5 separate regions of the Homo sapiens genome follow, and all the other regions are reported to be linked to region 1. The links are microRNA targets in miRTarBase. Many come from high-throughput screens and were not tested one by one. Region 1 holds a microRNA gene; each other region holds the end of a gene's coding sequence.
The links. Region 1 holds the annotated microRNA hsa-miR-4458 (AGAGGUAGGUGUGGAAGAA, at 1,706-1,724, shown strand). A microRNA usually pairs through its seed, bases 2 to 8, with sites in the 3' UTR of a target mRNA and lowers its output. Matches are read on the target gene's strand: a 7mer-m8 pairs with bases 2 to 8, a 7mer-A1 pairs with bases 2 to 7 and ends in A, and an 8mer does both.

Region 1 (4,151 bases):
TCTAGAGTTTTTGTGCTATGTGTTAACTGTCTTTTATAAATGAAGGGACGGCTTCCTCTGTAACATACGGGAGCATTGTATAATCTTTGAACAGGCAAAAGCATTCCAGAGAAAAGATAGATGAATTTCATATATTTTTATTAAAACAATTTTATTAAAACATAGATAAATACTGGATTATTTAAGCAAGTTGCAGTCTATGTAGGTTAACCACTAAGCTATGCTTCCTCTCTTTGCATGCGTGTGTGTGTATACGTGTGTTTTTCCTAAAGATACATCAAGGCTTAGTACTTTCACAATGAGTTAAGTCCTGCGCTGTGCCTTGAAAGATGAAGGGAGGGAGTTAGAGGCAAAGATGAATTAACAGGTTAACAGGATCCGGGTCCAAGTCCTTAGATGCCTATTAAAGAGTTCAGGCTTCACTCTGCGGGAAGTAGGAAGATTTTTGAAAGACTAAGTACTGGAAGGACATGATCAGGTTTGCAACTTAGAACTATCACTGTGGCTGCAGACCTAAGAGTAGACGAGAAGGGTGGGTAGAAAGGTTAGGAAACTACATTTTCCGAAGAAAAACATGGAAAGAACTGAAAGGGTGATCCTGGAGTCAGAGCCAGGTAGAGAGTTTAGGGATTTAAGGAGGATTTGGTAAGAGATTTATTGTGAATCCTACATCCTAAAATTTTAATGTTTTTTTTTCTTTTCTAGAGATGATAAATAGCCAAAGACGTCAATGGCACCCATGGACATAGTAAGCATAGTAGGAGCTGAAAAACTAGAAGCAATGACAATGTCAACTATTTTGAGCAAAAAGAAGCAGTGTCTTCGGAACATTTGATCATAAAACCAGAAATTAAAGGATGAGAAAAACATTTTTCTGAAGCTTATACTTTCACATTTCCTAGAGAGCATATTTGTGTGGATGGGGGTGGGTAAACACTCAACAAAAGTTTCTTTAAAAAGAAGAAACCATCCTGGTTTGATGTAATCAATGGTTGCCCACTGCTCCCTTCCTGTGCCTGTGACCCTTCCCAAACTGCCCTGTTGCTTGCAGGCTCGCCTGAGCTGAAAGGCAGCCCTCACATCCCGTCGGCACCTCCCTGGGGCCTTCTTTACACCCTGGAGAACTTCACAGGGAATCTGTGTCTGTAACACAAAGGCTTCCTGGTCCAGATGTAGATACTAAGGCTGACTGGTTATTTAAGTCCTGCGGACTTACTCTGCCAAAATTATTTAATCATGTAAAAATAATTTATAATTCTTATAAAGTATCCCCTTCATAATATAATGAATGTTGGTGCTATTACATTTAAGTGCACATGTACAGTATACAAGATTATTAATAATAATGTTTTCAAATAGTTATTGTCAAAGCTATTTTTCTTATGTTTATGAAAGTGCTTATAAAATTCATGTTTTATGAGGCTGGAGATGTATATTTTGTAATTTCATTCTGATATTTGTTAATATTCGCTTCCAATGCTGGTTTTGTTTGATGAGACTGACATTGCCTAATTTCAAGCTTTTTGAATGTGTATTCTTTCAGGGCAAGTATGAAATAACTAGTAAAAAATATACAAATATGCTTAACAATAAGTAGACTTTCTCACATTGATTACTTACAACAGCTTTATGTGGGGTGAATCAGATGCCTGTATTACAGAAGCATCTAATGCAAAGCAAAATAAAAACACTTGCATGAGCGCACAGAGGTAGGTGTGGAAGAAAGTGAAACACTATTTTAGGTTTTAGTTACACTCTGCTGTGGTGTGCTGCCTAGTATTTGCAGGTTAATGCAAATACTAGGGGTTATGAATTGTTTCTAAGTTTATTATTAAAAATAGCCTTGCTTCATTTCTTCCTAAAATGGAGACAAATATGTATAGTGTCTGTGTTACCAGTATGTGTAAGAGTAATATCTTAATGCGTGTAAAATGTTTATAGGAACCTGTATTTCAAAGAGCTATTTTTGCAAGTGACACTATCCTTTTAAGAAACTTTTTTATTCAAACTTTTTCCTCCATTTATAACTATTCTATTATTTCTTAATGTTCAGAACCCTTTTCATTATCTATAAGGTTAAATTTTAGGTAAGTAATGAGAAAATAATAATATGTGGAGAAGAAATGAGTGAGGAGTCGAGATGTGTGTCAATCAAGAATGAGTTTGTCAGCCCTTGTATTATGATTTTACTCGGGAGGGGATAATTATTGAAGGATGTAATGTAAGGGCAGTGATACTATATGGTATGTAAGACTGTTAAAATCACTGAGGTAAGCTATTACTTGAACTAAGCATAGAAATAGAGACAGATTTTTAATGCATTTAATTATCAAAATATCTAAATTAAAGATTTGATGTGGTTGTTCACTGGAAACAAATGGCAGACAAACAGAATATTTCTTGGAATCATAAATGACATCATCCTGTCTCCAACTTTCTGTGTAGCTTCTTTCTTTAGTTGGTCTTTGCTTAGATTTCCCTGTGTCAGAGACGACTTCCCTGGATATCAGTGACAGTTATTGATTGCTCATGCTATGAACTCCTCCCATTTCTCAGCCCTCTTGCAGTAGGTGGGGCCATGGTACTAGTTGTGGCTTATTGCTTAAAGACTTTAAGGCTCCATGTGTGACTTTCCAGCTCTGGTCCACTGCTACTGCGGCTCTGGCAGGACTAGGGAGGTGCCCCGTGTCTCAGATGGTGCAGCCTCCATCCAGCTGTGTCCCTGAATGACTAGAGCACAGCCACTGGTGACCTGTGGTGGACGTAGAATGTGGGTAAGAGATAAACTTATGCTACACCGCTGGGGTTCAGGGGCTAATTTGTTACCACAGCATAGTCAACCTTTTCTAGCACCCCATTCTGTCTAAATTTAGTAGTCCTACCCCACTCCATGCCTCCCCAACCCTTCCCCTGGCTTTAGTTTCTTTGTAGCACTGGTCCCCGCATGACCTGTCGTTGCTTTACTTTCTCGCATCACTTCTCCCTGCCTCCAGCACATGCACTAAAATTTAAACTCCATGCCTGGACAAAATCAATGTTTGTTAAATAAAGTCTGCCAGTTCTGTTTGCGATTTTTCAGAAACAAGGAAAGAAATCCTATATAAAGTTGATCTGTGCTTTGGCAATATTCATTTAGGGTAATTGCCCTTTTTTCAAATGGCTGTGCATTTTTTATGATGATGAATATAAAGTATTTAGCAGAAATATTTTTTATTAAAATTGTTGAGCTTATGGAATCAATGTAGCAGCCTATGTGAAAGAAACACTGTGCTAGAGAGTTGTCTTTCTGCCACGTGTAATCATTACATTTAACTCAAGTTCTCCATGGGAGATCCATGCAGAGATATGAAAATAGGACGGACGTCTCTTCCTTCTTAAAAGTTGCTCCAGATTTTGGCTTCAAGTGCTTCCTGTTTTTTGCCCTCCCTTATCCCTGGGAGTTCCCTCTATTTACTTTCACAAGGACTCTTGGTATAAAAGATATTTGTATACCTGGGTGTGTGGGAAGGAATTGAAGGCAAAGGTAGCAGTCATTTCAAGCTGAACATGTTAAGTGGTAATCGAGCACTTGGTTTTTGTAGTACCTCCTGTGGCCATCTCCACAGTGTCATATTTGAAAGAAATCTTGTGTAAGCATTGGTCTAAGGGTCACTGACTGTGAATAATGAATGCGGTGACAGCATGGCCATCTTAGAGACAGGCAGGCCAGATATTGGTTACTTTGATTTTAGTTGACAAAGTTTATTTGCTTTTAAGTTTTAAAGCAATACAGCAGTGTGAACTTCAAGTTGTAAACTTTCATTTAGAAAGTTTAAAATTTAGTTGAAATATAAAATATTCTGAATCTGAATAAAAAGTTTTAAAACTTATTCTTCCTTTTCAGTTGTTTTAAACACAAATGAATCAAGAACATGATTATCACCAATCATTACATGTTTATATTTCTGTTGTATACTGAAGGGAGTGGTGAAATGAATGCTGGAGGAGGATTTTGGTTGAGAAATTGGGAGGAGGAGGAAGTAGCAACTAAGACTGAGACGAATGGCCAGTTAGGAAACTCAAGAATATGAAACACTAGAGAACAATAAAGTGTTTCAAGAAGAACTTATGGGCAACTGAGTCTATTACAGTTGATAGGTCAAGTAGGAGGA
Region 2 (3,928 bases), not on the chromosome of region 1:
ATAACTTACTCTTCTCTACTTCAGGAATATTTAGTTTCAGAAATCTAAACTCATTAGAAAAAACGTATGATGAAAGGATATATAAACTATCACATTTTTATGAGAAAAAATACTATATATAAATGTACAGTATTTTTGAAATAGTCATTTTAAAAGAGCTCTTTATATGGAATGTATCATGTGAAGTACACAATCATAGGAAAAGATGGACTGAGAATTAAAGACCTGGAACAAAGTACAAAGCATCAAAATGAAGATCTCCAGTAACTGGACAAACAGTGCCAATTATTTTTTTCCTAAACTGTGCTGGGCACACAATAAGCATCCAATTCCACTTATTATAAGATGATAGCTTTAAAGAGGTGTATGTGAAAAGAAGACAACTACTTTTTTAAGGATTATCATACAAAGAACAGAACTGAAGAGAAAAAAATTATAGATTTGAACTTAAGACTTAGCTTGAAAATTTTTGTTCTTTCCACATGTGCATTAATGTAATAGGCTGTTTGAACCTTTCGCATGGACCCCCCAATGCCTCTAGCATCATAATGAATTTTTATCTCTACATCCAAAGGATCTACCAACAATTTAAGGTATGGAGATAAAAGTCAGGGATCTCCAGGGATATACTGCCCTGCTTCTCTGATTATTTAGCTGGAAGAGAGGCAGTGGGAAGATGCTTGAATGGAAAATGAGCTAGAATCCTTCCTTCAATTTGATATGTTAATGCCATAAATCAGAGTTGCACAGGCACCTGCTTAGTGGATAGCTTACTGGAGCTTGTGTGACATCATATATATTTCCTTCTTTGCATATCTCTAAACAATTTTTTACTTTAATTATGTCAATAAACATCTTTGAAAGAAAGACTCAGATTTGTAGTTTTTCATTTTTGCTAGCAGTGAAGCCTAATGCTTCTTAGCAGCAATGAGCAACTTCATTTAAACTGATTACTCTGACTAAGGAAAGAAAAACAACAATAGTACTCTACTCAGTCTTCAGAGTCAAACCTCACAACAGTTGGAGCTAGTACACGGGTTAGGAATATGGGAGAAAGAAAAGACCTAATATGACAAATAAATCTGTAATTAACAGGGATCTGTTAGAATCAGAACAGTCCTGAGTATTACCTTACTAAAAAAGTTCAGATGCATAGGTTTTGAATGAAGTTTCTGATTATTCTGGTTCCAAATATGTTGAATTCAACAAATCACGTAAAAAGTTACTGTATTTTTAATGTTAAAAGGAAGTCTTCAAGTTTTTGGTACTGGTATGAGTTATCATTTGAATACTCTTCAGTGTTACTATATTTAGTCAGCTTTCCATATCCTCAGGCTCTGTATCCTTAGATTCAAACAACTTTGGATAGAAAATTTAAAAAACCAATAAATATCATAAAAAATAGTACAAATGAAAAAACAATATAACAACTACATAGCACAACGTAAGTGCTATGCAATCATATCTAATCATCTGGAGATTAAAGTATATGGGAGGATGTGCACAGGTTATATGCAAATACTGTGCTATTTTATATAAATAAGGGACTTGAGTATCTGTGGATTTTAATATTGGGGGATGGTGTTCTGGAACCAATCCACTGCAGATACCAAGGAAAGACTCTAACTAGAATTCATTTTATCATTTAAAAAAGTCAATACATATTATCTTGATACATAAAATCCTTGAGAGACCTGATATTCATAGATAAAGCTGCACAAGTATAATTGCTTTTATGAAAGTTCCTAGAAGCATCTTAGCCCAATATCAATCTATCAAGTATTAAATCACTTTACCAATTTCAATAAATGCCAAGACTGATATAATCTGGTCGTAAGTTGCTATCAAGTAAGTGGATAACTGAACACACAGGATAGCTCAGAAATTCACTATTGGGATAGGAAAACCACAGAAAAGCATGATAACTGGTTCATTCATTTATAAGGAGGAGAACCTTCATTAAATCTGCAAAGAATTTTCAGTTTTTAATCTAATCTGCCTTCCTAATCTTCCTGGTGATTGGAAACAGGTTAGGAATGGGAGGTAATGGAATAAACATGAGGATTTCTGTTTTTTAACCACTGTCATAAAAGCTTGGGAAAAAGATAAACCCCAAATCATCGAAGAACATTGTTTCCTTAAAGTGTTTTCAAAATAAATATGAGACCAATCTTCAGAACAATGCACAACTGTGGATAAGTTAAAACCTTTAGGAAGGGGGATAACTGGGATAACTCTTGAGTACTGTATAATCAAGAACCAGGAGAACTGACATGTTTCCAGTTTCCTGGCAAAAGAAAAAGTGTAGGAAGGTAGGGTTTGGCATTTTAACATTTTATCTAAAACTACGAAAATAGAAACAACAGTGCCAAACATATGACTGAAACAAACAAACAAAAAACCCAAATGTAAAACTCTAAAAATATGTGATCAATGTTTAATATTCTGAGGAATAAGTAACAAAATCAAGACAGATTTTTTACTTAGCTGGGTTAATTTCCTCTGAATTCTTCTAAGAGTTAAAAATGAACTATCACATTGATTGATTTAGAACCATCAGATTTTACTTCTGGAAAATCTATTACCTTTCAAAAAGTTATAATTTTAATGTTAGCACGAAAATTACTTCCTAACATTTCATTAAAATTTTGCAGCCAAAGATTCCTATTTTTGAATTACAGTACTGCAAGGCACATACAGAACTCACCTCCTTCAAAACCACAGAAGATATACTCCCTGAAATAGAATTTTAAAATCCTTGAACAATTAGAAATACTATAAAGTTAGCATTTTTTAGGTAAAAATGTTGCTCCTACAGGATCATGCAACTTTCTTAAAATCAATTCAGCACATATGTATAAAGAATCCTTTTTAAAAACATTTGTACTTGAAATACAGACACAGTGATGCTGAAGACACTAAACAAAAACTGAAAAGTACTATATCTTGATAAATTTTGTTATTGCCTTCTTTAGAGACTTTATAATCTCTAGTTGATTTTCAAGGACTTGAATTTAATAATGGGGTAATTACACAAGACGTAAAGGATTTTTTAAAAACAAGTATTTTTTTTTACCTCTAGCATCAATTCTTTTATAAAGAATGCTAAATAAATTACATTTTTTGTTCAGTAAAACTGAAGATAGACCATTTAAATGCTTCTACCAAATTTAACGCAGCTTAATTAGGGACCAGGTACATATTTTCTTCTGAACATTTTTGGTCAAGCATGTCTAACCATAAAAGCAAATGGAATTTTAAGAGGTAGATTTTTTTTTCCATGATGCATTTTGTTAATAAATGTGTCAAGAAAATAAAAACAAGCACTGAGTGTGTTCTCTTGAAGTATAAGGGTCTAATGAAAAATAAAAGATAGATATTTGTTATAGTCTGACATTTTAACAGTCATAGTATTAGACGTTTCGTGACCAGTGCATTTTGGACTCTCTCAGGATCAAAATACGAGTCTGCCAACTGTATTAAATCCTCCTCCACCCCCTCCACCAGTTGGTCCACAGCTTCCTGGTGGGTCGTTGTCATCAAATCCATTGGGCCGAAATGAACATGAAGCAGATGCAGCTTGGAGGGCCCGGGCTCGAGCATTCAACTCTTGTTCCTAAAATTAAAAATAACTTTTATGAAATTAAAATGCTAAATACAATGGATCGTTATATCACCTATAGAAATATTTTAAAACTACCTTAATCCTTATAAACATTCTTCAAATCTCAATAACTTTGAAACTAAAGCACCTAAGAAAAAAAAATTTCTCTAAGAAAATATTACAGTTCCTGCAACACTCTCTAAAACATACTGGAATAGATTCTTTTCTAATATATTTAACATAGAATTCAAAGATTATCACAATAGATTATCTATTCTCCAGCAATTGGGGCTATTTTGGAAGTGGGTGATTACAGTTAAATGT
Region 3 (4,151 bases), not on the chromosome of region 1:
TCATAATGAGCATGGCCTCAAGTGTCCTAAACCAGGGACATGGGCCTTCTCCTAGCGACATATACACCACTGGTACAGACATAGGAGAGTGATGTTAAAAAGATGGAAATCCCATAGGTACCCGTGTCTCACAGTGTCTTGGAGGCATTCTCCTCTGTTTGGATAAATAGGCCCAGAGAAACCTACAAATGCTTTAGGGTGCTTACGTGCAAATGGTTAGGGTGCGGTGGCCAGGTCTCTTGACGGTCTTCTCTCCTGCCCCAATCAGAGCTTCCATACAATGACTACTTTGAATACTTTGGACCAGATTTCAAGCTCCACATCAGTCCTTCCAATATGACTAACCAGAACACGAATGAGTACCTGGAGAAGATCAAGTGAGTATATCCTCCAGCCACCCCTTGGTTGAACATTCCTGACTTTGGTTTGTCCCTGACCAGAGCCCTGCTACTCTCTCCCATTGGCCACAGACAGCGACTGTTTGAGAACCTTAGAATGCTGCCGCACGCACCTGGGGTCCAAATGCAGGCGATTCCTGAGGACGCCATCCCTGAGGAGAGTGGCGATGAGGACGAAGACGACCCTGACAAGCGCATCTCGAGTGAGACCCAGACCTAGAGCCCTATGCCTTCCATTCAATAGGCAGCTCACACTTCCACCACCATTCCTGGCTGCACACTCCCTCCAAGCTCCCCACCTGTAGAGAAATCTGTTTTCGAGTTCCAGTGCCTGTAGGAACAGGTTAGGGAGCCCGAGTTCCTCCCTCTTCTGGTTCCCTTTCCCTTGGTGTCTCTTGGAGGACACGCAGGGAAGCACTGGGCATAGATGCTGAGCTAAATCAGCACCCGCCTGCCCTCTCACCCATGCTTCCCACTCCCTCCCAGTCTGCTCCTCTGACAAACGAATTGCCTGTGAGGAAGAGTTCTCCGATTCTGAAGAGGAGGGAGAGGGGGGCCGCAAGAACTCTTCCAACTTCAAAAAAGCCAAGAGAGTCAAAACAGAGGATGAAAAAGAGAAAGACCCAGAGGAGAAGAAAGGTGGGTTTGGGTTCAGCTGGGACTTGGGTCTCGAGCCTGAGAGGATGAATCTATGTAGGGCAGTGGGAGGAGGGAGTGACTCAGGCCCTGCCAGCTCCTGTGGGGCTCTTCCTCAGTTCCTTGAGCCTTTCAGTGGCTCCCAGAAGTGGCAGAGCCCACAAAACAATGAACCTCTACTGCCTGAGCACGGCTCTCACATACCACCCCAGCCCTTTTCCCAGCACTGCACCCCAGTTTCCCAGGGGGCTGCCTCCGCCCACCAGGTTCTGGCTGTAGCAGGCTGGGAAACCAGTCCAACCTGTTCTCAACAGGGCTCACTGGGAGGACCAGGGATGGGCTTTTCTCTCTTTATGTCCAGTGAGCTGTAGTGTTGGGGAAGGGGTCTCAGGGTAAATGAAGACCTCATGGGTCTTCCCAGAGGTGCTGCCCTTGGCCATCCCTGTACTCTTGTGTTCTAGAAGTCACCGAAGAGGAGAAAACCAAGGAGGAGAAGCCAGAAGCCAAAGGGTGAGGAAGGAGCTGCCTGTGGCCATCTCCCTGGCATTGGAGCACCAGCCCCTTTGTCCCACCACTCTGAGGAAAGGCACAGGGACAGCTGGTCCAGCTTACAAAGGCCTCTTTCAGGGACCAGTCTGTCCAGCTCTGCAGTTCTAGGCAGAGCTAGGAGCCCCAGCCCCCAGTAGTCACCTAGGATCCTGTGGAAGTCACTGTCTGCACTTTTGCCCTGAGGCTCTGGGCTGGGTCATCTCATGCCAGTCTCTGCTCTCTCCACAGGGTCAAGGAGGAGGTCAAGTTGGCCTGAATGGACCTCTCCAGCTCTGGCTTCCTGCTGAGTCCCTCACGTTTCTTCCCCAACCCCTCAGATTTTATATTTTCTATTTCTCTGTGTATTTATATAAAAATTTATTAAATATAAATATCCCCAGGGACAGAAACCAAGGCCCCGAGCTCAGGGCAGCTGTGCTGGGTGAGCTCTTCCAGGAGCCACCTTGCCACCCATTCTTCCCGTTCTTAACTTTGAACCATAAAGGGTGCCAGGTCTGGGTGAAAGGGATACTTTTATGCAACCATAAGACAAACTCCTGAAATGCCAAGTGCCTGCTTAGTAGCTTTGGAAAGGTGCCCTTATTGAACATTCTAGAAGGGGTGGCTGGGTCTTCAAGGATCTCCTGTTTTTTTCAGGCTCCTAAAGTAACATCAGCCATTTTTAGATTGGTTCTGTTTTCGTACCTTCCCACTGGCCTCAAGTGAGCCAAGAAACACTGCCTGCCCTCTGTCTGTCTTCTCCTAATTCTGCAGGTGGAGGTTGCTAGTCTAGTTTCCTTTTTGAGATACTATTTTCATTTTTGTGAGCCTCTTTGTAATAAAATGGTACATTTCTATATCCTCCTGAGCTTGTTTCCTATGTGTCCCTGGGTTGGTTTCAACTCTACTTCCCTGCCGTTCTGGTGTCCATGAGTATTGGGGCAACCCCCTGAACAAGAAAACCCCATAAACTTACCTGCCTGCCTTAACTCCTCCCTTGAGGTTTGAGGTAAACTACTTTCCACCAATCTTCTCACCCTACCCCCAGAAGACCACTCATTAAAGCACCACTAAAGGGACGACATTTATTCCTTTTCCAAATGTTACAGTAAAACCAGGTGGAAGAGAATGGTTTTAGCAGTTAGAAAAAAAAAAAAAGTACAAATCTGGGGTTTGGCCATTAAAAGTTATTTACAACAGTGGGAGAAAAAAAGACAAGAAGTTGTTTCACATTACAGACCTCCCCCCACCCCAAAGCCTAATACTTGCTTACCAAGTCAAAAAAGAGACACAGTTGATTCACAGGCTGGAGGTTTGAACTTGAGTAAGACATTTATAAAAACCTAGACGGGGCAGTGTCCTCCCCAGCCCAGGTGCCACTAGGCACAGCACAAGAGACTAAAAACAACAGGGGAAGGCTGGACACTCAAGGTTTGGGAGTATAAGCACCCCACTTCTGGCTCAGGGATTTGGGGAGTAGGGTAAACAAAACCTACTTGGAAAAGAATTGGGGAAGAAAACCAACAACTGCCTTATGCAGGGGTGGGGACAGGGAAGGAGGTAGGGCCAGGGACAGGAGCATTTCACATCACTAACCTAACTTGGGAAGCTGTAAGGGACCATCTTCAACTGGCCTTAAGAGGAGAACCAGATGGCTGATGGGAGAATCCACAGGAGGGAGAGGAGGAAAGGGAACGTGGCTGGGAGGAGGCAATAGCCCCTTCCTTTCTGGGCACAGGAAGGCAGCCAGGGCACCAGGTCCAGGCAGTGACCTCACAAGGACAGCACAGTTTTTGCAGCTTAGAGATCACCCACCTGCCCCTACCTAGCTACTCATTCTGCTCAGCGCTGGCTGGTGTAGGGCCACTCTCCGGCCCCGAGGGAGTGGATGGCTCTGTAGCCTGGGGCCCTGCCTCTTCTTCTGAGGCTGCACTAGCCTCTGCCCCCTTGGCCTGGGGTTCCTGGCTCTCAGGGGTGGCTGCGGCCTTCCCTTCCTGAGCAGTGCCCTCGTCGCTGCAGGCACCGATCTCCCCCTGCTCCTGCTCTTCCTCTGTGGGTGAGGAGGCAGAAGAATCACCCCCACCCTCCTTCCGATTTCTCTTGAAGGACAGGCCGCTCAATTTGAAAGGCTTCTTGAAAGAGAATTTCTTCTTCTTCTTGGGGGTCTCCTTGGGGGGGACCTCCCCCTTGGCCTCAGCACCCTGGCTAGGGGGTGCTGGCTCGATGGCATCGCCAGTGGCCCCGGCTGCCTCATCTGTTCCGTTCACAGGGGGCGACTCCCCTTCACCCTTGGGGGATAAGTCTCCATTGCTTTTCACGTGGCCATTCTCCTGCAGGGCAGAGGGAATAGCAATGAGGGCAGGGGCTCCCCCTCCCCCAGCCCGCTTCTGATCCCTTCTAGAGGAAGGGGTCCTCGATTCGATTCTACTGCAACCCGAAAGTCTGGCTTCAGCCTCACCCACACCCAGGATCCCGTCAAACACCTCCCTCTCGCCCCTCACGGGCGCGCGGGGAGCGAGCGCGCAGAGGGCGCGACCGGCAGGAGGCGCTGGGGTCCCGTGGCCCCCACCCCCGTCCCCCGGGGCGCGC
Region 4 (4,151 bases), not on the chromosome of region 1:
TCCACTGCCGCAGCCTCCCAAAGTGTTGGGATTACAGGCGTGAGCCACTGCACCCAGCAAATCTGTACTTATTATAAACAATAACTTCCCGTTTCCTTTTGTCCTGACACCCACCATTCTACTTTCTGTCTCTATGATCCTGACTACCCTATCTCATATAAGTGGAATCATTCAGTATTTGTCCTTTTGTGACTGGCTTATTTCACTGAGTATAATGTTCTCACAGTTCATCCATGTTATAGCATGTGTCAGAATTTCTTAAGGCTAATATTCCATTGTATGCATGTGCCACATTTCGCTTTCAGTAGTCATTTTTAAGCTCTATAAAATAAAATGAAGAAAGGACAGTTCACAATCTAGTAATAGCCATTGCCTACCTGTTTTTCTTGGACTCTTGTTGGAAATGGTAGGATCATGATTTCAGTCCTAACAGAGATGCTTGTGGAGGGACAGCCTGTCCCTTTCTTGGGGCAGCCTCAGTGGGGAGACCATAGCACTCCTAATGGAGTCACAGATAGTATTCCAAAAGGAGTTTGGTCCTGGAGTTGAGTAATTACACGCAGGGAGGGACCTCACAACAGCCAGACTGTTTCTCCTGCTCACTTAACCCTGTGTTGCCCCACACAGTATCGTGAAGAGCGCTTCCGACTGACGAGCGAGAGCACCAACCAGAGGGTCCTATGGTGGTCCATTGCTCAGACTGTCATCCTCATCCTCACTGGCATCTGGCAGATGCGTCACCTCAAGAGCTTCTTTGAGGCCAAGAAGCTGGTGTAGTGCCCTCTTTGTATGACCCTTCCTTTTTACCTCATTTATTTGGTACTTTCCCCACACAGTCCTTTATCCACCTGGATTTTTAGGGAAAAAAATGAAAAAGAATAAGTCACATTGGTTCCATGGCCACAAACCATTCAGATCAGCCACTTGCTGACCCTGGTTCTTAAGGACACATGACATTAGTCCAATCTTTCAAAATCTTGTCTTAGGGCTTGTGAGGAATCAGAACTAACCCAGGACTCAGTCCTGCTTCTTTTGCCTCGAGTGATTTTCCTCTGTTTTTCACTAAATAAGCAAATGAAAACTCTCTCCATTACCTTCTGCTTTCTCTTTGTCCACTTACGCAGTAGGTGACTGGCATGTGCCACAGAGCAGGCCCTGCCTCACTGTCTGCTGGTCAGTTCTGGGTTCACTTAATGGCTTTGTGAATGTAAATAAGGGGCAGGTCTTGGCCCTAGAGGATTGAGATGTTTTTCTAAATCTTAGAACTATTTTTGGATAAATTATATATTTTCCTTCCTAGTAGAAGTGTTACTGCCTGTAACTAGCTCAAAATACCAATGCAGTTTCTGCATTCTGGGTTTTGTTTTTCCTTTTTTTTTTTTTTTTTTTTTTTTGAGTTTTGCTCTTGTCGCCCAGGCTGGAGTGCAATGGCGTGATCTCAGCTCACTGGCAACATCTGCCTCCCGGGTTCAAATGATTCTCCTGCCTCAGTCTCCTGAGTAGCTGGGATTACAGGTGCCCGCCACCACGCTCAGCTAATTTTTGTATTTTTAGTAGAGATGGGGTTTTACCATGTTGGCCAGGCTGGTCTTAGACTCCTGACCTCAGTTGATCCACCTGCCTCAGCCTCTGCATTCAGTTTATTCACATATTTTTGGTAACTCCCATGGCAGCTCCTAGGATTTCAGCGGTCTGTGGGCCAGAAAGCAGGCACCAGGGCTGACCTCAAGGCCGTATCAGAGGGCCAAGCAGAGTTCTTTTGGATACCTGCTTTTCATCCCACAGGGCCTTAGAGTCAGAGGTAAGGTAGCAACAGAGCTAGAATGGGGCAATGCACTCTTACCCTCCTTCTCAACTTTTATTTAAGCTGTGCTAAATGTTTTCTTCAAGGGAACCAGATTTAGTTCTTTACAGAATTTTCCAGTGAAATAAAACATGTTGTAATAGCTGTGTTTGAGATGAAATAAGAGGTTGTGGGTAGAGGGGAGGCACCTAAAGGAAAAGAGGAAAGGTGCCTGGGCTACCTATGCAGATAACCTGGAGTGGACTTCACTGTGGACTCGTGGTACTAAGGCTTGGCCTGGACAGGCAGTCTAGGGGGTATGGGAATACACGGTGTGGTTGTTCAACTATTTGCAAAGGTCAACCAAATAGACCACATGTTCGCAAAGTATCATCTGAGGAAATTAAGTACCTTCTTAGCCCTCTCAGTCATAAATTTGAACAAATTTTAATACACTTCCCTCATGCCCTTCTATATAAAACTTAATACCATTAGTTCCCCATTCTTGACATTTTATTTCAGTTTTTATTATATATTTATTTGAAATATTTATTAAATTATCTGACCTACAGAACTAAATTCTTCTCCTTTTGTTATTTCTTATGTCCTATACCATATATGTACCTATTTATATATATATTTATGTATTTTTAAAATTTTTATTTATTTTATTTTTTGAGACAGTCTTGCTCTGTCGCCCAGGCTGGAGTGCAGTGGCATGATCTTGGCTCACTGCAACCTCTGCCTCCCGGGTTCAAGCAGTTCTGCCTCAACTTCTGAGTAGCTGGGATTACAGACACCCACCACTACACCCGGCTAATTTTTGTATTTTTATTTTATCTTATTCATTTATTTATTTTTGAGATGGAGTCTCACTCTGTCGCCCAGGCTGGAGTGCAGTGGTGCAATCTTGGCTCACTGCAACCTCCACCTCCTGAGTTCAAGAGATTCTCCTGCCTCAGACTCCCGAGTAGCTGGGATTATAGGCGCCCGCCACCATGCCCAGCTAATTTTTGTATTTTTAGTAGAGACAGGGTTTCACCATGTTGACCAGGCTGGTCTTGAATTCCTGACCGCAGGTGACCCGTCTCGCCTCCCAAAGTGCTGGGATTACAGGTGTGAGCTGGCCGGGCACAGGTGATGGGGTCTTGCTCTGTCCCCAAGGCTGGAGTGCAGTGGTGCCATCACAGCTCAAAGCAACCTTGAGCTCCCAGGTTCAAGTGATCCTCCTACCTTACCCTCCCAAGTAGCTGGTACTACAGGTATACTCCACTGTGCCTGGCTATTTTTACTCTTAAAAATACATGTGGGCTGGGCACGGTGGCTCACGCCTGTAATCCTAGCACTTTGGGAAGCCAAGGTGGGTGGATCCCTATAGCCCAGGAGTTCGAGACCAGCCTGGGCAACATGGCGAAATCTTGTCTCTGCAAAAAATACAAAAAATTTAGCTGGTGGCACATGCCTATAGTCCCAGCTACTTGAGAGGCTGAGGTGGAAAGATCACTTGAGCCCGGGAGGTCAAGGCTGCGGTGAGCCATGATCGTGCCACTGCACTCCAGTCTGGGCAACAGTGATCCCATCTGAAAAAAAAAAACAAAAAAAAAAATGCAATTTAGGGCCAGGTGGGGTGGCTCACGCCTATAATCCCAGCACTTTGGGAGGCCAAGGCAGGGGGATCGCCTGAGGTCAGCAGTTTGAGACCAGGCTGGCCAACATGGTGAAAACCCCTCTCTACTAAAAGTATAAAAATTAGCCAGGCATGGTAGTGTGTGCCTGTAATCCCAGCTATTCAGGAAGCTAAGGCAGGAGAATCGCTTGAACCCGGGAGGAGGTTGCAGTGAGCAGAAATCGAGCCACTGCACTCCAGCCTGGGGGGCAGAGGGAGACTCTGTCTCAGAAAAAAAAAAAAAAATGCAATTTAGTTCTCTAGGCTTTTCCATTTAATAGTTTTATATCCTCCTGTTTCTAAATCTGGATGACAGTGTAACACTCCAGTAAGGTGAATTGTGAATTGCTGAAATTCTTCAGATGTTTAAAAGAGTTTTCAGTATTCCTCATGTTAGAATTAATGCAGAGAAAAATTTTATCCTTTGAACTAGTTACATGTTGTGGACTTCTGGCCTGAGGCTCTTGGGGATTATGTGACATATTGGGAAGGGACACATTTCTGCTCTGTGGCTGTTACTAGAAATCTAGCCAGCAAATCAGACTACGTTTGTGAGAAGACAGGAAGGCACAGATTAGGGTTGAGCCAGCCTTCAACAGGTTTGGCTGGCAGTAGACACAGTGGAGCACATCTTAACTATTTTGGTAGGTCCTGGGTTTCTCTTGGTAGTTTTTGATAGAAAGGGGAATGGTGTGAGGAAAA
Region 5 (4,138 bases), not on the chromosome of region 1:
AGACAATCATCAACATAAAAGGCTAATTGTATTAATCACCAAGGCACCCGGCCCGAGTCCCCCTCCCTTTGGGGAGAATTATGAATTGCAATTGCAGATGGCTCCACTGATTGAAGGCAGTGCTCAGCAGGGAGAAGGGTCAGATCAGATTATACACCATTAATTAAAAACTTCCCTGACAAACAGGAGGAAGGGAATGCACACCAAGGGCTGGCCTGGTTGGGTCTCTGTCCTCCCCATGTCCCCTGCCCCCACCCAGGCCCAGGGGCTATGCCAATGAAGCCTGCTTCCCCCAGCTGGAGCTACTGAGATTCAGCTCTCCAAAGGCCAGCCCTTCCCTCATCCAAACAGATGGCCTGCTGTCCTATTAAAGGGCTCCAGAGGAGGGGAAGCGAACCTTTGGTTACTTATTTCCACGTCTAACCTTGGATGCTCTTCAGAGGCTAACCTAATTCCCCACTTCTCAGGAAACTTATTTCCTCCTGCTCTGTCCTGACAGAACTGCTTTGAAGAACTGTTAGTGAAAATAGCCCCTCAGCTTTCTCTTCAGGCAACCCCTCATATTTTGGCCTGTATGTTCCTGGGACAGACATTGTGAAGCCTGCTCTGAAATTGTGGGTGGAACAGCAAATATCTGGCGATGCACCCTCTCCCCAGCCCCTGCCTGGAAGCATAGGCTTCTCAGCTGCTGTCATACTGGCTTATTTGGAGCTGTAACTCCTGAAATTTTCTCCTCTTGATCTATTACTGCCTCCCATCCTCCCCAACTGCCCAGCCTTATTCATTCATCAAACTTATATTGAGCACCCAGTGTGTGCTTGGCTCTGGGGACAAAAAGCAGTGATCATTTGTCAAGGAGCTTAAGAGCCTACCATAGGAGCTCCACGCCCCCATCCCCTTCAATCCTCTAGTTCCTGTTTCCTTCCTTCCTGGGGCTGCAGCTTGTATGAACCCCCCAGGAGCTCTATTTTGGAAAATTCTCAACTGGGAGCTGGGGAGACCTTAAGTGTTCGTGCTCCTGAACCAGGTGACCTTGAGCAAGTCAATCATGTCCTCTGTTTACACATACGCTCTCATACATGCATACATACAGACACCCAGCTCTCCCTGCTCATAAAAGGACACAGGCAGCCTTGGACTCTGAGAGATTGTGAAGATGGATGAGTGGGGCCCAGCTTGGAGAGATGTGAGTAGTATCTGCGCTGATATTACAGAACGCTGAGCACAGCTACTGGGGCTATGAGCACCAGGGATTCAGCTACTGCACTGGTCACAGGCTGGGCCTGCCACACTGCCCTTGGAAGACTTGGGCAGCCTTTCCCCCATCCCCAGTCCCTCAGGAGACATCACTAAAAAGGATCTATCTTTTGTTTGTATTTTAATTTAATTAATTTTTCATTTTAAATAATAGAGATGAAGTTTCACTATGCTGCCCAGGATGGTCTCAAACTCCTGGCCTCAAGCAATCCTCCTGCTTGGGCCACCCAACATGTTGGTGATTACAGGTTTGAGCCGTCATGCCTGGCTAAGTTTTTAATTTTTTGTAGAGGCAGGGTTTTGCCATGTTGTCCAGGCTGGTCTCGAACTCCTGGCCTCAAGCGATCCTCCCACTTTGGCCTCCCAAAGTGTTAGGATTACAGGTGGGAGCCACTGCACCAGGCCAGGACCCATCTTTTGTTTTGTTTTTTTTGTTTTTTTTTTTGAGACAGAGTCTTGCTCTGTCACCAGGCTGGAGTGCAGTGGCGTGATCTTGGCTCACTGAAACCTCTACCTTCCGGGTTCAAGTGATTCCCCTGCCTCAGCCTCCCAAGTAGCTGGGACTACAATCACGCGCCACCACGCCCGGCTAATTTTTTATATTTTAGTAGGGACAGGGTTTCACCATGTTGGCCAGGATGGTCTCGATCTCCTGACCTCGTGATCTGCCCGCCTCAGCCTCCCAAAGTGCTGGGATTACAGGCGTGAGCCACCGTGCCTGGCCGCCAGGACCCATCTTTTATATGAATTTGGCTGCTGCATCTTAGGGTACCATGGTGATGGGCGTCATAGAGATGAGAAGAACTGATTTTATTGGTTCGCCTCTTCATTCCAGGGCCCTCCCACAGCCCCTCACACCCACAAAGCCTCAAGGTCAGCAGACCCAGGAGAAGAGCACACAGGGTCCCTGGTTAAGTAGATCCAATGATGTGAGAGAAAACCCAGTCTCTCTTCCCTCCCTCTCAATCATCTTTCTCTCTCTCTTTTCCCCTCCTCCCTCTCATTACCAACAGCAATTGTCTTCATACCCAATAATTACAGTAACAGCAACAATAATCATCATTTATTGGGGTTGTTTTTCTAGCATTTTAACTTCTGAAAGTATTTTCCGATTTCTTGATTTCACAGCAGTCCCTGGAGGAGGATTGTGTGTCCATTTTACAGCTGGAGAAGCCGAGATCCAGAAAGGACCCCCAAGTTGTGGGCAGAATAAATCTACAGCAGCTTTTAACTATTAAACCAACTTAGATTTTGGTAGTCTTTCAGAGGCACTGAATCTCAAATCTTAGTTTCCTGGGTCCCTCCTGGGTTCCTACCACCCTTAGGGCTTATTCAACAGCTTTCTGGGGATCCTGTAATGCTGACAGAGAGCCTGGAGACGGCTTCTTTGACCCAGGTCATGAGTCAATGGCTAGATGGGCACTTCCCCTCTGAGGATTGTTCCTGCCTGAGAGTGGGCTGTGGGGTGGGAGCTGGGGCAAGCACCTGGGAGGAGGCTTCCCTGGGAAAGGCCTGTCTGGCTCAAACCTCCCTTCCTCTATCCCACCTCTCTACGAGCCTGAGAAAATGTTCTTCTCTGTGTCAGTTCTTCTCAAGGGTGGGGGCCTCTCCAGAGCATTTGGAGGATTGAGGAATAAAGACCTATTGGGAGAGGCCGGGCACGGTGGCTCACGCCTGTAATCCCAGCACTTTGGGAGGCCGAGGTGGGCAGATCGCCTCAGGTCAGGAGTTTGAGACCACCCTGACCAATATGATGAAACCCCATCTCTACTAAAAATACAAAAAATTAGCTGGGCGTGGTGGCAGGCGCCTGTAATCCCAGCTACTTGGGAGGCTGAGGCAGGAGAATCCCTTGAACCCAGGAGGTAGAGGTTGCAGTGAGCCGAGATCATGCCACTGCACTCCAGCCTGGGTAACAGATCAAGATTCTGTCTCAAAACAAACAAAGATCTATTGGTAGAGCAGTCTCTGTCCTCAGGAAGCCCCCAGTCTGAAGGAGGAAATATAGCCCCCAAAACCACACCCAAGGTCAGAGAAACACCCCCAGGAGCTCAGAGGCTGTCCCAGGGCCTGATTCCTCCAGAAAGCCTGTCCTCTCTGGACCAAGGGTTTCCTGGGTGGGTAAGAAGCTGGGGCTCCCTGAGGTCCCTATAGCTCCCATGTCTAAGCAGAGTGGCTGTCTGGGCTCCCATTCCTTTCTCCCCCAAGACTTGGGCATCTGGGGTCAGGACTCCTACGGGGTCCAGTGGGTGAGAGGATGGGAGGGCGATCCTAAATCCCCTGCCTTCCTCTGCTCTGTCCCACCGAGAGGTGGGGAAGCCCTACAGAGAGGGAATGGGACAAATTCACTCCCAGATTCTACCTAGAAACGTAATGCCAGGGATAGGGCTTGTCCCCTCCAGCCCACCTGGTCAGGACAAAAGGTCAAGCCTCCCCCTCCCGCCACCCCCAGGGAGAACCTCCAGGCAGGTCCTGCAAGGCAGGAAGCCCAAGGGCGCGGCCAGGCGTAGGCTGTTTCACACACTCTCCATCTCCACGGCTCCCGAACCCGGCTGGGATTCCTTCTTCAGGGGCTCCGCCCCTGCCCCTGCCCCTGTCCCCACCTCTACGGTGCCTGTGAGGATAGCCAGCCGCTGCGCCAGGGTCTTGGTGTCGGGGAACAGGACGAAGTTGTAGATCAGTGAGGCCAGGAGGGCTCCCATCAGGGGCCCCACCCAGAAGACCTGAGGAGAAGGATGTCGTCACCCCACCCAGGAGCTATCAGGACCACAGGGTGGCTCTGGGACCGCTGCCTGCTTCCCCAGTGCCGACTTGATCTCCCAGGTCTCCCTCAACTGTCTGTAAGGTGCTAAATTTGAGAACCACGAGTCGTGTTTCCCAA

Region 2: the mRNA of USP38 is a reported target of hsa-miR-4458. Seed matches in the 3' UTR shown: 7mer-m8 at 3,262-3,268.
Region 3: miRTarBase lists MARCKSL1 as a target of hsa-miR-4458. Seed matches in the 3' UTR shown: 7mer-m8 at 3,120-3,126.
Region 4: the mRNA of TMED4 is a reported target of hsa-miR-4458. Seed matches in the 3' UTR shown: 7mer-A1 at 805-811.
Region 5: the mRNA of AQP6 is a reported target of hsa-miR-4458. Seed matches in the 3' UTR shown: 7mer-m8 at 3,120-3,126.

Annotation. Positions count from the first base shown.
Region 1 is chr5:8,459,228-8,463,378 of GRCh38, forward strand. MIR4458 (microRNA 4458) reads left to right here and starts at 1,698; the gene lies at 1,698-1,772. It overlaps MIR4458HG (MIR4458 host gene), which reads left to right. Exons shown (of 2, transcript NR_039989.1): 2 at 706-3,869.
Region 2 is chr4:143,219,983-143,223,910 of GRCh38, reverse strand. USP38 (ubiquitin specific peptidase 38) reads right to left here. Exons shown (of 10, transcript NM_032557.6): 10 at 37-3,616. The coding sequence ends at 3,455. Among named protein-coding and RNA genes, the nearest start is that of USP38, 37 kb to the right of the region's middle.
Region 3 is chr1:32,331,206-32,335,356 of GRCh38, forward strand. MARCKSL1 (MARCKS like 1) reads right to left here. Exons shown (of 2, transcript NM_023009.7): 2 at 2,634-3,892. The coding sequence ends at 3,392. HDAC1 (histone deacetylase 1) reads left to right here. Exons shown (of 14, transcript NM_004964.3): 10 at 269-377; 11 at 471-601; 12 at 885-1,037; 13 at 1,496-1,544; 14 at 1,812-2,421. The coding sequence ends at 1,839. Among named protein-coding and RNA genes, the nearest start is that of MARCKSL1, 3.0 kb to the right of the region's middle. RefSeq lists a silencer at 3,850-4,151.
Region 4 is chr7:44,576,105-44,580,255 of GRCh38, reverse strand. TMED4 (transmembrane p24 trafficking protein 4) reads left to right here. Exons shown (of 5, transcript NM_182547.4): 5 at 628-2,362. The coding sequence ends at 777. Among named protein-coding and RNA genes, the nearest start is that of TMED4, 4.1 kb to the left of the region's middle.
Region 5 is chr12:49,975,307-49,979,444 of GRCh38, reverse strand. AQP6 (aquaporin 6) reads right to left here. Exons shown (of 4, transcript NM_001652.4): 4 at 2,306-3,980. The coding sequence ends at 3,774. LOC105369764 (a long non-coding RNA gene) reads left to right here and starts at 3,940. Exons shown (of 3, transcript XR_001749143.2): 1 at 3,940-4,138.